Homo sapiens: one gene and its partner. The protein of the gene in region 1 purifies or fractionates together with the protein of each later gene. This does not show direct contact. Each region holds a gene or a part of one and is shown on either strand. Other genes may lie near its edges.

Evidence for each region.
Region 2: the proteins of CIAO2A (region 1) and CCP110 purify together in Homo sapiens (affinity purification with mass spectrometry; one large-scale study listed by BioGRID and IntAct). This does not show direct contact.

Annotation. Positions count from the first base shown.
Region 1 is NC_000015.10:64,080,313-64,083,964, forward strand, and holds part of CIAO2A (cytosolic iron-sulfur assembly component 2A), read right to left. Parts: intron 840-3,652; coding exon 790-839; intron 1-789. UniProt on the Homo sapiens protein: Component of the cytosolic iron-sulfur protein assembly (CIA) complex, a multiprotein complex that mediates the incorporation of iron-sulfur cluster into extramitochondrial Fe/S proteins.
Region 2 is NC_000016.10:19,533,933-19,537,584, forward strand, and holds part of CCP110 (centriolar coiled-coil protein of 110 kDa), read left to right. Parts: intron 1-2,007; coding exon 2,008-3,652.

The DNA of each region.
Region 1 (3,652 bases):
TGGAGGCGGAGGTTGCAGTGAGCCGAGATTGCACCACTGCACTCCAGCCTGGCGACAGGGCAAGACTTTGTCTCAAAAACAAAAACAAGGCCAGGCACAGTGGCTCATGCCTGTAATCCCAGCACTTTGAGAGGCCGAGGCGGGTGGATCATGAGGTCAGGAGTTCAAGACCAGCCTGACCAATATGGTGAAACCCCGTCTCTACTAAAAATACAAAAAATTAGCTGGGCGTGGTGGTGGGCACCTGTAGTCCCAGCTACTCGGGAGGCTGAGGCAGGAGAATCGCTTGAACCTGAGAGGCAGAGGTTGCAGTAAGCTGAGATGGCGCCACTGAACTCCAGCCTGGGTGACAGTGAGACTCTGATTCAAAAAACAAAAACAAAAAACCATCACTTCACACCCACTAGAATGCCTGTAATCAAAGATAATAATAAATGTTAGCAAGGATGTGGAGAAGTGGGAACGCAGAATGGTGCAGCCACTGTGGAAAACAAACAATTCCTCAAAATGTTAAACACAGAGTTACCATAGGACCGGGCGATTCCACTCACAGGTGGAAAAGAAATGAAAATATATGCCTACACAAAAACTTATACATGAATGTTCATAGCAGCATTACTCATAATAGACAAAAAGTAGAAACAACCTAAATGTCCATCAACTGAGTAACAGACAAGCAAAAACCACTGAATTGGTACACTTTAAATACGTGAATTGTGTGGTATGTGAATTATATCTCAACAAAGCTGTTTTACAACAACAACAACAACAAAAATACATCTTTCTTACCTTATGTTTAAATGGTAAACATCGCTGAAGTTTTACTCTTAAGCACAGCCCTGTGGAGGGAAAATCACACCTCCAATTATCTCTTTATTGCTTCTTATTGGTTCTTGAAAAAGCATACAACTGCGTTTATGTGCCCCCATACAACACAGTTGCTGAAAACAGCTTTGGCTCAATCCAGAGCAGAGCTCCTTTGAGGCTGGCACCACGCTAGGAAATTTAATATATAATCTTACATATTCCTTAGGATAATCCAATAAGCTATTACTAATCCCCTTCTACAAATTATTAAACCAAAGTCACAACGTAACTTCCTCAAGGTCACTGAGTTACAACAGTGGCAGAATTGGGATTGGAACCTATGACCACTGGAAAGCCCAGGCCATTTTTACTACATCAGTTGGCCTTCCAGCAAAAGTCAATTAACTCATTAAGCCTTTTTTTTTTTTTTTTTTTTGAGACGGAGTCTTGAACTGTCGCCCAGGCTGGAGTGCAGTGGCATGATCTCGGCTCACTGCAACCTCCGCCTCTCGGTTCAAGCAATTCTCCTGCCTCAGCCTCCCAAGTAGCTGGGATTACAGGCGCACACCACCACACCCAGTTAATTTTTATATATTTTTGGTACAGATGGGGTTTCACCATGTTGGCCAGGCTGGTCTCAAACTCTTTACCTCAAGTGATCCGCCTGCCTTAGCCTTCCAAAGTGCTAGGATTACAGGCATGAGCCACCCCACCCGGCCAATTCAATTAACTTTTTAAAATGCCCCACAACAGGCCAGGACACGCAAAAAAATAAAACAAGTCAAAGCCATTTTAAAAGGGCCACATAAAATCTCTCAAATTTGTAATCCTTTATGCCTGCAAGGTACAAATACAGTAACTTCTTTAAAACAAGTTCCACTGAAGTTCAGTTTATCATCCCATGCTAAGACACATCAACAAAACCTCAAACCATACAGCAATACAGCAAGATATAATTGTTAGACTACCTATCTTTTAGGGAGGTAGTAACTTGGTTTTGGTTTTCTAAGTACCATTTGGTTTTCTAAGAGAATTTTTTGAAAAATCCCAAAACAGGGAAAAGGATTAGATGAGATATAATGAGGTGGTGCCTGCCACAGGGTCTTTATTTACTTATTTATTTTTTTGAGACAGAGTCTTGCTCTATTGCCCAGGCTGGAGTACAGTGGCGAGATCTCAGCTCACTGCAACCTCTACCTCCTGGGTTCAAGAGATTCTCCTGTCTCGGCCTCCTGAGTAGCTGGGACTACAGAAGCACGCTACCACACCCACTAATTTTTGTATTTTTAGTAGAGACAAGGTTTCATCATGTTGGCCAGGCTGGTCTTGAACTTCTGACCTCAAGTGATCTGCCCGCCTCGGCCTCCCAAAGTGCTGGTATTATAGGCATGAGCCACCGCGCCCGACCTTATAGAGTCTTGAACACAGTAGTTCTATAATAAATATTAGAGAATTCTAAAGAAAATATATTATTTCCTTAAGAGGGTCTCTCTTCAGAGGATCTGCCTTAAAGCATATCTGGGAGAGTTCCTCTTCCCCTGGCCCCACCATTGTCTCCTTAATTTGTTATCTGTGTACTGTCTGAATATCCTCACGTATTTTAGTCACTATTGGTAGGTGTTTTACAATTCGCAAAGCACTTTTTTGAGCATCATTATCCTCAAGAGAGGTAGTACAGCATAACTGAGATACTTTGGGTTTCAAAAGTAGCTTCACTACATACTCGCTGTGATCCTGCATAAGTTACTTAACCTCTCTGAGCTTCAGTTTCCTTATCTGCAAAACAGGCATTATAGTATCAGCTGGGCAAGGTGGCTCATGCCTGTAATCCCAGCACTTTGGGAAGCCAAGGCGGGAGGACTGCTTGAGCCCAGGAGTTCAAGACCAGCCTGGGCAACGTAGCAAGACCCCATCTCTAAAAGTAATAATAATAATAATAATAATAAAACTTAAAAATATATATAATAATATCACAATATATAGGGTTGCTATGAGGAATAACCTGTTATGCAATGTGTTTAAAACAGTACCTGACACATAAGTGTACAATAATAGTATAAAAATAATTACTATAAATAGTAAAAAATAATAGTATAAAATATTACTATTTTATACTATTTTATAATTTTCATTTTACAGCCAAGAAACCAAGGTAGGTGATTTAACATTACTTAGCTAACAAGTGGCAGAGGTAGAACCCAAACCTACACCTTCTGACCTCCAAACCCTAAGACCGTTCCCATTGGACCACAGCTGCCTTCAGCCATTCTTATCTGGAATAAGTCACCACAAATGATTATCAACTTGTTTCCCTGCCTTACCCTCTTGTTCCCTTGGAGTCTTCCTTGTCAATCACTTACCAAGGTAACATTGAGTAGGTGATACTCTTACTCAGGCACCTTTCCAGGCTAGGACTACCTGCTCTGGAGGAATATCTGTTAACACATCAGACAGACGAAGGCTTCTCTCAAGTTTTCCAGCTGTGTTGACTGAACAAAACTACTATGATACACTATTATACAATTCTCTAAAAAACCAATAGGCCGGGTGTGGCAGCTCACACTTGTAATCCCAGCACTTTGGGAGGCCGAGGTGGGCGGATCACTTGAGGCTAGGAGTTTGAGACTAGCCTGGGTAACATGGAGAAACCCCGTCTCTATTGAAAATACAAAAAATTAGTTGGGCATGGTGGCACGCGCCTATGATCCCAGCTACTTGGAGGCCGAGGCACGAGAATCGCTTGAACCCAGGAGGCAGAGGTTGCAGTAAGCCAAGACAGCACCACTGCTTTCCAACCTGGGCAACAGAGCAAGACTCTGTCTCAAAAAAAAATAAAATAAAATAA
Region 2 (3,652 bases), on another chromosome or scaffold:
GTTACTCGAAATCCCTATGTAATGAGTCTTCAGAATCTGATGAAAAAGTCAAAGGAATATATAGAAAGAGAACAATCTAGACGCAGGCTGAGAGGTAGTATTAAGAGAATTGTTAATGAGAGTCATAGTGACTCTCATGTGACATAGTTGAGTTTGGGGTCCTGAGATATTATTTCCCTTTCACAGTAGTATATAGTGTGTGGGTAGTAGATTTCATTTTGCAGATTATAATTACTGTCCATATTAAGTTTAAAAAATGTATTGAGTAGCACTAATTTAACAATAAGAGGTAGGTTTTTTACTTACTACGTATTTCCTGTGATTGAAATGAAAATGGCATATCATTCTTGGTCCATTGAGGGAAGATAAAATATACTACTAATAAAATTGTTAAAAGAGCATGTATAATGTTGAACTGTAATGAATTAATTATTCAGATAGGAAAATTTTATATAATACAATTAGATTTCTGCTTCACCTGTAAAACCTAAGATTCTATGATAGATTTTTTTCTTGTTGTTATTTAACTTGTCTAACTAAAGGCTCATTTTAGTGACGTATAAACAACATAGCTTCCGAATATCACAAATGTGAAATATTTTACGTAAGGAAATCATCTGTTTTACTTAAACCTGTGAACATGTTCATGGATTTCATAAATATGCATCCTTTTTGTTTTATTTTGGTCCTGAGGCTGTGACTAAGTATGTCTTGTACTCTTGTACTGTTGATTGCATAGTACCTGGAAACCTTTTTGCATCTTTTTTGTTTTATTTTGGTTCTGAGGTTGTGACTAAGTATGTCTTATTGTACTGTGTATTGCATAGTACCTGGAAACCATTACCTGTCTTGGGATTTGTAACGTAAAATAGGAGAGCCATGTGGTCTAGAAAAAAACAAGCACATTCAAAACAACCAAAAAATATTGTAATATTCAGACTTTTTTTTTTTTTTTTTTTTTTTTCTGAGATGGAGTCGCGCTCTGTCGCCCAGGCCGGAGTGCAGTGACGTGATCTTGGCTCACTGCAAGCTCCGCCTCCCAGATTCATGCCATTCTCTTGCTTCAGCCTCCTGAGTAGCTGGGACTACAGGTGCCCACCACCAAGCCCAGCTAATTTTTTGTATTTTTAGTAGAGATGGAGTTTCACTGTGTTAGCCAGGATGATCTTGATCTCCTGACCTCATGATCCGCCCGCCTCGGCCTCCCAAAGTGCTGGGATTACAGGCGTGAGCCACCATGCCCCGCCAGTAGTCAGGCTTTTGATGTCTGTATTCATATGATAATACAATGATTTTTGCCAGTTTAATATACGGATGTATAATTACCTTTAGAAACTATCCTAGTTCTCTTTTTATTCTTTTGCAAAGTTGGATTATTTAGATACAAAATATCTATTTTTACATTCATTCATTCATTCATTCATTCATTTTTGAGACAAAGTTTAGTTAAACTTTGGAGTAAGCATGTAGGTGCAGGAGTCTTATTACTGAATCATTTTTGCTTAATCAATGTCCTGGACAAGTTAGTCTTTGTTAGAGAGGGAATCGTTTACGTAAGACATTTCATTACTTGCTGTTTATTGCATATATTATTATCCTTGGATGATAGCTATCCTAGGAGGAACAGTTGGTAATGTTAATAACATATGACTAGAAGAAATTTAAGTGCTTGTATTCTAAGATTAAATTGCACATGGATATATGAATATATGTGTGTGTGTATACACATATATATGTTCATATTTGTATCAGATTAGATGTTTCTTTTTATAACTCTTTTATAACTCTTTTAATAACTTAGGCAGGATGACCAGTAGGCATCTTTTCAATAATAATTTGAGCCCCCTGTGATACAGGATACCGTAGAAACCTGTCATCTTAGTTTTTCTTTATGTTTTGAAATGTCAGAATTCTGAATTTTCAATTTCAATTTTATTTTAGAAAACAGTGAAATCAGAGACTTTTTGTGCAATGAGGAAATATTAATTTTTAAATTTCCTGTTTCAGGTTAGAAAAGCACCTAATGCCAGTGATTTTGATCAGTGGGAGATGGAAACAGTTTACTCTAATTCAGAAGTCAGAAACTTGAATGTTCCTGCTACATTTCCAAATAGCTTTCCAAGCCATACGGAACACTCTACTGCAGCAAAGCTTGATAAGATAGCTGGGATTTTGCCATTGGATAATGAGGACCAATGTAAAACTGATGGAATAGACTTAGCTAGAGATTCAGAAGGATTTAATTCTCCGAAGCAATGTGATAGTTCCAATATTAGTCATGTAGAAAATGAAGCTTTTCCAAAGACCTCTTCAGCAACCCCACAAGAAACTCTTATTTCTGATGGTCCCTTCTCAGTAAATGAACAACAGGATCTACCACTTTTGGCAGAAGTCATCCCAGATCCCTATGTAATGAGTCTTCAGAATCTGATGAAAAAGTCAAAGGAATATATAGAAAGAGAACAATCTAGACGCAGTCTGAGAGGTAGTATCAACAGAATTGTTAATGAGAGTCATTTAGACAAAGAACATGATGCTGTTGAAGTGGCTGACTGTGTAAAAGAGAAAGGCCAGTTGACAGGCAAACACTGTGTCTCAGTTATTCCTGACAAACCAAGCCTTAATAAATCAAATGTTCTTCTCCAAGGTGCTTCCACTCAAGCAAGCAGCATGAGTATGCCAGTTTTAGCTAGCTTTTCGAAAGTGGACATACCTATACGAACTGGCCATCCCACTGTTCTAGAGTCTAATTCTGATTTTAAAGTTATTCCCACTTTTGTTACCGAAAATAATGTTATCAAAAGTCTTACAGGTTCATATGCCAAATTACCTAGTCCAGAGCCAAGTATGAGTCCTAAAATGCACCGAAGACGTTCCAGGACATCATCAGCGTGTCATATACTTATAAATAACCCAATAAATGCCTGTGAATTAAGCCCTAAAGGAAAAGAACAGGCAATGGACTTAATTATTCAAGATACTGATGAAAACACAAATGTGCCCGAAATTATGCCAAAGTTACCAACTGATTTAGCGGGAGTTTGTTCAAGCAAGGTTTATGTGGGCAAAAATACATCTGAAGTCAAAGAAGATGTGGTTTTAGGTAAATCAAATCAGGTATGTCAATCTTCAGGAAATCATTTAGAAAATAAAGTTACTCATGGACTTGTTACTGTGGAAGGTCAGTTAACATCCGATGAGAGAGGCGCACACATAATGAACAGTACCTGTGCTGCGATGCCAAAGCTGCATGAACCATATGCCAGCAGTCAGTGTATAGCAAGTCCAAACTTTGGAACTGTGAGTGGACTCAAGCCAGCCAGTATGTTAGAGAAAAACTGCAGTTTGCAAACAGAACTGAATAAGTCTTATGATGTAAAAAACCCTTCTCCTTTATTGATGCAAAACCAGAATACGAGACAGCAGATGGACACACCTATGGTGTCCTGTGGAAATGAACAATTTTTGGATAACAGTTTTGAGAAAGTTAAACGGAGACTTGATTTAGATATTGATGGTTTGCAAAAAGAAAACTGCCCTTATGTCATAACAAGTGGAATAACTGAACAAGAAAGGCAACATTTGCCAGAAAAAAGATACCCTAAGGGATCTGGCTTCGTTAACAAGAATAAAATGTTAGGAACTAGTTCCA